Linked DNA regions of Homo sapiens: regions 1 and 2 are each linked to region 3. The links come from fine-mapping of genetic effects on gene expression. A gene starts in region 3. Each other region holds a variant in brackets. All regions are shown on one strand. Distances are from middle to middle.

The links. PIP is the estimated chance that this variant, and not a neighbour inherited with it, causes the effect. A credible set is the group of variants that fine-mapping cannot tell apart.
Region 1: its variant is the best candidate, but not a certain one, in a credible set for the expression of SMG6 in monocytes after LPS (Quach 2016, PIP 0.84).
Region 2: its variant is the best candidate, but not a certain one, in a credible set for the expression of SMG6 in whole blood (TOPMed, PIP 0.52).

Annotation. Positions count from the first base shown.
Region 1 is chr17:2,060,623-2,063,378 of GRCh38, reverse strand. It overlaps HIC1 (HIC ZBTB transcriptional repressor 1), which reads right to left. Exons shown (of 2, transcript NM_006497.4): 2 at 138-2,756. SMG6 (SMG6 nonsense mediated mRNA decay factor) reads left to right here. Exons shown (of 19, transcript NM_017575.5): 19 at 1,757-2,756. The coding sequence ends at 1,887. Among named protein-coding and RNA genes, the nearest start is that of HIC1, 6.9 kb to the right of the region's middle. The variant G/A (reference allele first, on the strand shown) is at 1,379.
Region 2 is chr17:2,221,279-2,224,034 of GRCh38, reverse strand. All of the region lies in intron 10 of SMG6 (SMG6 nonsense mediated mRNA decay factor), which reads left to right. Among named protein-coding and RNA genes, the nearest start is that of SMG6, 81 kb to the left of the region's middle. The variant T/C (reference allele first, on the strand shown) is at 1,326.
Region 3 is chr17:2,302,407-2,305,162 of GRCh38, reverse strand. SMG6 (SMG6 nonsense mediated mRNA decay factor) reads left to right here and starts at 1,378. Exons shown (of 19, transcript NM_017575.5): 1 at 1,378-1,530. The coding sequence starts at 1,443. It overlaps SRR (serine racemase), which reads right to left and starts at 1,213. Exons shown (of 8, transcript NM_021947.3): 1 at 1,146-1,213. RefSeq lists silencers at 1,129-1,348, 1,539-1,748 and enhancers at 1,250-1,976, 2,306-2,756.

The sequences.
Region 1 (2,756 bases), 240 kb after region 3:
CTTGTCAGATTCACAGAGAAACCGTCACTAAATGTTTATGTGTAAACGATGTTGAATTTTAAAATCATGTGGATTATGGCGGATGGGGCCTGACAAGATGACAGTCTCTGGTTTCTAACAAAGTGAAGTTACCAGTGTCAAAACAGAGGATGTTTATTGTGAAAAATGTCAAAGTATCCACAGAAACCCCTGCAGACCCCTGCCAGCAATGTCGGGCCTTGGTTAGCTGACCTAAGGCCTGGGACGCTCCTGGTTTGAGGCCCAGGGCAGGAATAGTGGGGCTGCTACAGACGCAGCCAGTCAGCTGGGAGCCCCACACAGCCCTGCATACCACCACCCCAGCCACACTTATCTGCAGAGGGGCCTGGCCCAGGCAGCTGAGTAGTCTCTGAGTATCCCCTCACCCGAGGCCACCTTCCTTTCCCCTCTGCCCACAGCCCCTTGCCTCCCTTCACACTCTCCTTCCTCCTGTCCTCTTCTCTCGCCACCACCAACCCCACAAACCTCTCCCTCCCGAATCCTCCAAACTCCTCCCCAGGCTGAAAGCCAGTTCTCAGCCTCCCTGCCTGGAGCTGGCAAGCCTGAGACTGCTCAGGTCCGACATGGATATTTGCAGCCCCCCACCCCCGCCAGCCCACGCAGTCAGTGAGCACAGCAGGACACTTCCTGTGCCTTGCTGTCTGCCGGACCTGGACCTCTGTCAGGAAATGCCCAGCCTGGGACTGACGAGTAGACCTGCCACCCAAGCAGGCCTGTCAGGGTAGGGATGTCACTTGTGTGAGTGCTTGTCCCTGGCTTAAATTCTCTCCAATGTGTTAAAGATTAGGGAGTTAGGGAAAGAGAGGTAGTGGAGAGACTGTGCTTAAAAAAAAAAAAAGTCATCTAAAAAGAATGAAAGATATCTGTGCCACTATAGCAAGACCTTTTAAGTATATACTCTGAAAGTGTGGCTAATATGATCATGATGCTGTAGGAAAAAAAGGTTATATGTCCAAGTGTATGTACTTGTAAATGTGCCTAAAGAAACCTGGAAGGATACACAGGTCTTCCCTGGGGTACAAGACGGAGAACTGGGATCATCATCTTAACTCTACTCTTCCTTTTTACTCTTCTGTCCTCTTAGAGACTTTCGCCTGTATACATGGATTACTGTTACTTAGCAGGGGCGACCGGTTGGCCAAAGCCTTGGTGTGCCCTTGGCACAATTCTGCCAAGACCCTTACCCTCTCCTCTCCTCAGGGCTCCCTTAACCCCTCTCCCCACATCTGGAAAACCCTGGATACATTTTCTGTTCCATCTTTAGTTTTCTGCCTCTGGATGCGTAAAGCTTCAACCTGCTGGCTTTTAGAGGGAGAGGACTTGTTAAAAAAAAAAAAGT[G/A]GGGTGTGGGGAGAGCGGTGTTGTGATCTGGGGGCCAGCCATGTGGTAAAAAGGAGTAGAGGTCAAGGGGCTGCTTCTATTCCCTCAGTTTAGGGTCCTGGGAGGCTGACGGGTTTGGGCAGCTTTTGGGAACTAGGCAGAAGAGAGTCCTGTATGGGAGGCCGGAGTCAAGGCAGAAGCCCAGTGCAGCCCTCTCTAGGCCAGCAGGGGAGGGTCCCCGGGGCTGAGAGCCCGGACGGAGGAAAGGACTGGTAGAAGAGCCAAGACACGGCTAGCGTGGCACCCCCTCCCCAGGACCACATTCTCCAGGGTGAGAAGAGCAGCCAGCCCTCTGCCTCCTGTCCTCAGTGACAGCCTTCTGCTCTCTCATGCCCACAGAGGAGCCAATCCGGCTACTGCGGGAGGTGGTGCTGTTGACGGATGACCGGAACCTGCGTGTGAAGGCGCTCACAAGGAATGTTCCTGTACGGGACATCCCAGCCTTCCTCACGTGGGCCCAGGTGGGCTGAGGGAGCCACACTGGGGCCCCCCCCCCGTGGAACCGTTCCTGAAAGGCCACCAGGCGCCCAGTGTAGCACGGAAGATGCCCACGTGCCTGAGCCACCAATCCACCCAGACAATAAACCATCCTCTTCCAACCCACGCCACGGCCATGCTGTGGGGGACCTGCTCCTCACAGAGCCCCTCCCAAGGATCGGGCGGAAGCTGCTGGGACCCTCCTGGGCTGCCAGGATTTAGCAGGGAGGTGGCTGGCTACAGCAACAGCAGCTGGGCAAGCCAGATAGGCCGCCCATGCTCTCAGCCTTTCTCCCTCCCCCGTCTCATTCCAAGGCTGAGGGAGGGCCTTCTCGCCTGGGGACGCAGCCACTTTCTCCAGTGGAGACAGGGCAGGGGTTCTGAGTTTCCGTCAGATGCAGTGAAATCACAGTTCCCTTTCATCTTCAGAACCTCTGTCGTGAATGTGTTCAAGAGGCTTTGGTTAAGTCAGGAAGAAGTGCCCAGGGTGTGTGTCCCCAGTCTCCCTGAGGCCTGGACTCGCCCATGAACCCAAGTCGGCTTCTAGACAGCATGTCCCTAACAGCAGCCCTGGGCCCCCACCTCTTCTACCATCCACCCCAGACTTACCACACACCCTTCCTGCTGCTCCTCTTCCTGCCCTTATCAACCTGGGTCCCTCACACTTCGCCAGTTGCGTCCCCGTGGACAGTCATGAGTCTAGAGGAAAGGGGCATCTGGTCTCAGGCCCGTGCTCTCGGGTGGCCTCCACCTGCTCCCTCTCTCCTCACTGGCCTTTCTTTCCGTCTAGCTTCCTCTTCAGGAAATGTCCTGACTCCCCTCAGCTCCCCCTTCACCCCTCCTTGCCCGCCTACCCTCCCTC
Region 2 (2,756 bases), 81 kb after region 3:
GATTGGGAGAATGGATCTAGGTGTCTAGTCTGCCGTACTACCAGAGGAAGCTGGGATTTCCTTGTTCCATCAGACTTACTCAGACTTTCTTTCTTTTCTTTTCTTTTTTTTTGCTCTGCCTGTGATGCCCATGAGCAGTGTGACTGGGCACCTACATCCAGGGTGGCAAGGGCATGTAGTTTGCTCTTCCAAAGATTAGTTTCTTTTCCAGCTCCTGCCCATTTACAGCTCAGTCTTATGGCAAATGGTGTCATTGGGCTCACATTTTTTCATTTTTCCAAGAGGTGTCCAGTGTATAGAATATCACTTAGAGGGCTAATTGGGTGGGGAAGAAAGATCAAAGGAGTGGAGAGGAAAGGCTGCAGCTGAAGTGATAGGAGCCATTTATTGACAAAAAGATGTGAGTTAGAGATTTGGAAAAGAGTACTCTGTTGTTTCAGCTACATCACATTATATATCTGGTGAACCTTGCTGGCCCATGAAATCCTTTCCATTAGTCAGGGTTCTCTGTGCTTTTGTTCTTGACTACTGCTGTTCTTAGTGCTATTCGGTTTGCTTGTATGTCTCAGTTTCCTTTTCAGAAGGCAGATTGTCGTCTATTTAGGAATGCATTTACTGTAATTGGAGTGTTCTGGCTTGTTTAGTCCCCTCTTCAAATATAAGACTCATATCTTGAAGCTTATGTTCAGAAAATATGCGCGTGTGATCCCTTTGCCCCAAGTGCCAACAGCAGATGTAGCAGTTGACACGCTGCAGGGAATTTCCAACTGCTGGGCAGGTTTCTGAAATCCGGACACGTGCTGTTCACACTTTGGCTTCTGAGGCAAGGATCAGTGGTTGAAAGAGGGGAGGAGCTGGCAGGGGACTGCAGGGAGAAAGATCTTATAATGCCTGCCCAGGGCTTTAGGCTGTGTCAGCTTTCTGCATCTCTTCTCCAGCTGGAGCTGGCAGGGTCGAATAAATCACTGCAGAGTAGTTATGAGCCCAGCTCACCAGGGACTTCTTTGAGGCACACCTGTGACGTCATCCTGTTATCACTGTCTGTTCCACATAACCTCTTTTCACCTCTCCCCTGAGAGAGGGTGATGCCCAGAACTCATGTCAGGGCAATGAGCAGAGGAAAATGTTTCGTAAGTATTATTTTTCAGATGCCTGCTAGGGATACAGTTGTAGGCCATTGACACATTCTTCAATATTCCTCATTGGAAGAGAAAACCTGTGTTTGCAAACATGGCCTGAATACCCCTTGTGGATAAAACTTCTTTTTAAACTTGGAAAGAAAGTCTTGAAACTCCTAAGTGGTCTCTTTTTGTACCCCTTACCTC[T/C]CTCGTTCCTTCCCAAACATGCACACACAGACACATTACATACAGAGTCTGCTGTGTTCAAAATCCTTCACTGACTTCCCATTTCACTCAGTGTAAAAGCCACATTATTTACAAGGCCTTCATATATGGACCTCTTCTCCTGCCCCCCCCCCCCCCCCCCGCCCCCGCATTGCCTCTCTCTGAGCTCATTCACGACTGTTCTCCCCATGGCTTGGTTACTCTGCTTCAGCCACACTACCCTTCTTGCAAGTTCTCTGCTAAGCTGGGGACTCTCCCACCTTTGGCCCTTCGCATTAGCTGTTTTCTCTGTTTGGAATGTTCTGCATCCAGCCATCTGTCTGGTGAATACCTCGCCTCCTATAAGTCTTTGCTTAATGTTACTTCTGTGAGACCTGCCCCAACCATCCTATTTAACACTGCTGCATTCTACTCCAAACCTGCACTCTTTATCTTCCAATTCTATTGATTTATTTTCTAAATACTAGATAATTAATGTGTATATGTTTATTATTTATTTTCCTCTACTATTCTGCAAGAATGTAAGCTCCCTGCTTATAGGGGTCTCTGGTCTGTTTTATCCACTGATACATTGTGAACATCTAAAACAGTCCCTGACCTGTTGTAACTTCTCAGTAAACATGCGTTATATCAAGTTCAAGTCAAAGAATAATTTGAGGCCAGGTGCCGTGGCCGACGTCTGTAATCCCAGCTCTTTGGGAGGCCAGTGCAGGTGGATCACTTGAGCTCAGGAATTCAAGACCAGCCTGGCCAACATGGCGAAACCCTGTCTTTACTAAAAAATACAAAAATTAGCCAGGCATGGTAGTAATCCCAGCTACTTGGGAGGCTGAGGCAGGAGACTGGCGTTAACCCGGGAGGTGGAGCTTGCAGTGAGCCGAGATCACCCCATTGCACTCCAGCCTGGGCAACATTGCAAGACTCCGTCTCAAAAAAAAGAATAATCTGTCAGCAGGTCAGCCTGGACAATGAAGATTGAATGGCAAGGGCAGGGGCATCTGTTAACTAGGTTACTGCTCATAATCTTACTGTCTTTCCTTGTTTTTTGTTAAGGTGACTTTCTTGAAAGCATAATTTCCAAATGCATATTTTACATCTGGCATTAAAGTAAAATCCATTAAATGTGCTTTGGTATCTACTGTTGTATTAATCCTTTCTCATACTGCCATAAAGACATACCTGAGGCTGGGTAATTTATAAAGAAAAGAAGTTTAATTGGCTCATAGTTCCACAGGCTGTACAGGAAACATGGCTAGGGAGGCCTCAGGAGAATCACAATCATGGTGGAAGGCAAAGAGGAAGGAGGCACGTCTTCCATGGCTGGAGCAGGAGGAAGAGAGTGAAGGGGGAGGGGCTACAGACTTTAAAACAACCAGATGTCCCGAGAGCTCCATCAGGAGATAGCACCAGGAG
Region 3 (2,756 bases):
CTTCTGAACTGTTGGATCTTTTCACCCATCATCTACTGACTTTCTTCTTATGCTTAACCTTCCGGTGACAAAGTGTCACGTAAAAGGAACTGAAGGAGTTCTGTCAGAGGTTGTGGCAATCCCTTCGGCTCAGACTAAGGAATAATTGGTAACTATTCTGTGATGGGTGTGGGGTAAAAGCCTATGGGGCTGTGGAGGGGCAACAGGTGGAGGCAGGAGGCCTTGGGGAAGGGAGCTTCACCTCTGTACAGTTCTCCAAAAAAAGATTCAAGTACCAGCCTTCTGGTATAGTTCAATTTTAAAGATGGGAAATTAAAAAGTCAACCTGAGATCCACAGCAGTAATTTTTTTCAAGAATCCATAGTGACACAGAAATTCCCAAATTGACTTTTTTTTTTTTTTGAGGCGGAGTCTCGCTCTGTTGGAGACTCCCGGGCTGGAGTGCAGTGGCGCGATCTCGGCTCACTGCAGTCTCCGCCTCCCGGGTTCAAGCGATCCGCCCGTCTCAGCGTTCCGAGTCGCCGGGATTACAGGTCCCAAATGGACTTATATGCCTCCTGATGTACTTCCTTCCACACGATTCCAACTATATCGTATCTAGTTTTTAAAAGTCAGGGGGCGGCCGGGCGCGGTGGCTCACGCCTGTAATCCCAGCACTTTGGGAGGCCGACGCGGGTGGATCACCTGAGGTCAGGAGTTCGAGACCAGCCTAGTGAAACCCCGTCTCTACAAAAAATACAAAAATTAGCCGGGCTTGGTGGCGTGCACCTGTAATCCCAGCTACTAGGGAGGCTGAGGCAGGAGAATCGCTTGAATCCAGGAGGCAGAGGTTGCAGTGAGCCGAGACCGCGCCACTGCACTCCAGCCCGGGAGTCTCCAACAGAGCGAGACTCCAACTAAAAAAAAAAGGGAATAGTAACAACTACTCTTAGCAGATCTTCAAGGTCCCAAGTAATGGCCCGCGGCGCTAGGCCGGGCCTGTGGCGGGAGAGCCTGGCCTAAGGTGTCCAGAGGAGCCCAGGCTGAGGGGTGTCTCTGTCAACCCGAGTCCCAGACTAGCAGTGTCCTTGGTGTCCACGACAACAGCAACGGCAGCCACCGCCGCAAACGCCCGCCTGGCCTGGCACGGCCCGGCCTCGCCTCACCTCAGCTCACCGGCGCCGCGCCTCCAGCTCCAGCCTCCGCGCGCCTCCCCGGCCGCACCTCTGCGCACGCGCAGCGCCCGCCCGCCCCACCCAGGCTCTCGCTCCGGTCCCGCCCCTCTGGAACCGGCGGCGGGCGCTTTTCCTCCCAGCGCGGCCACCGTCGTTCGGAAAGGGAGGGCGGCAGGGGGCGGGGAAAGGCCGGGAGGTGGGCGAGCGCGCGCGCCGCCCGTCTGTGGTGGTTTCCTGGCTGCGCGCGGCGGTGGCGGAGCCGCTACGGCTGTAGCAGCAGCCGCGAAGATGGCGGAAGGGCTGGAGCGTGTGCGGATCTCCGCGTCGGAGCTGCGCGGGATCCTGGCTACTCTGGCCCCGCAGGCCGGGAGCAGAGGTGAGTCGCGCCGCCCAGCTCCTGGGCCGGGCCTGCCCGCCCCGCCTCCCTCTCCTCCTCCTCTGCCTCCTCCCCGCTCGGCCCTCGGCTCCGGAGCCCCCGCCCCTTCCCCCAGCAGTAGGCGCTGGGGCCGCGGCGGACCCTCGCTGCCCTACCTCTCTCGCGGGTTAGTGCGGGGTCGGGCTCGGCCAGTCCTGGCCAGCTCCGGGAGAGCCTGGCCCGAATTCCTGCCTCCACCCTCTTTCTCGCCGCGAAGGTGACTGTTCCTTTTGCCCCAGCCCTCTCAGACCCGCCCCGGATTCCCAGGCATCGGGAGACGCGGAAAGGAGTGGGGTCTGGTGGAGGCCCCGGGCGTATCGCTCTCCAGGCCGCCCTCCGCGGGCCTGCCCCGGCCACCGCTTTAACGTCGGAGAGAAGGAATTGGGGAGAAAGGTTTAAGAGCCTGCGACTTCGTTGCTGAACTTTTCCCCCCCAAGACAGGCTTCCGAAAGCTGCGCCACTGGAGGGATCCGGGACCTCAGACTACTCGGGTTTGGCCCTGGCATGTGTGGGAGCAGTTTTTATTAGAGAGAATGCTCAATTTGCAAGTTAATTTCAAGTCTCCAGCCACGTCAGGAAAGTAAGAAAGATTCTAAGTGTCTCACCTCTCCTGCGTTAGGCAATAGAGTTGTGTAGAATGGTAGCTGTGATAGGTGCCTTCTCTAGGTTTGCGGCCAGTCTGTGAAATTGGTTTTTGTTGATTAACATAATTGGATTATTAAGGCTATTTTCTCCCGCTGCTCTAGAAAGTAGTAGGAATAGCTTTCCCCATCCCCCCGCCCCCCACCAAGTTACAGACTGCCGAGGGTGAGCTATTCTTGGGTTAAACTGCTTTATCTTTGTGGATACTTCATGAACCTACCTTTTAAACTTATGAAAATAGTGAAGCACTATCCAAAACCTCAGTCTCTTTTCTTCCCCTTTTCCTTACACCTACAAACAGTAAATGTACTTGCTGGAGCATATGATTCCTGTTTTGGGCTTGTTTCCATTTATATTTAGAGAGCAATACTAGGATTAAAAACTTTTTTATTGTTGTTATTATTATTTTTTGAGACGGAGTCTAGCTCTGTCGCCCAGGCTGGAGTGCAGTGGCGCGATCTCTGCTCACTGCAACCTCCGCCTCCCGGGTTCACGCCATTCTCCTACCTCAGCCTCCCCAGTAGCTTGGACTGTAGGCGTGTGCC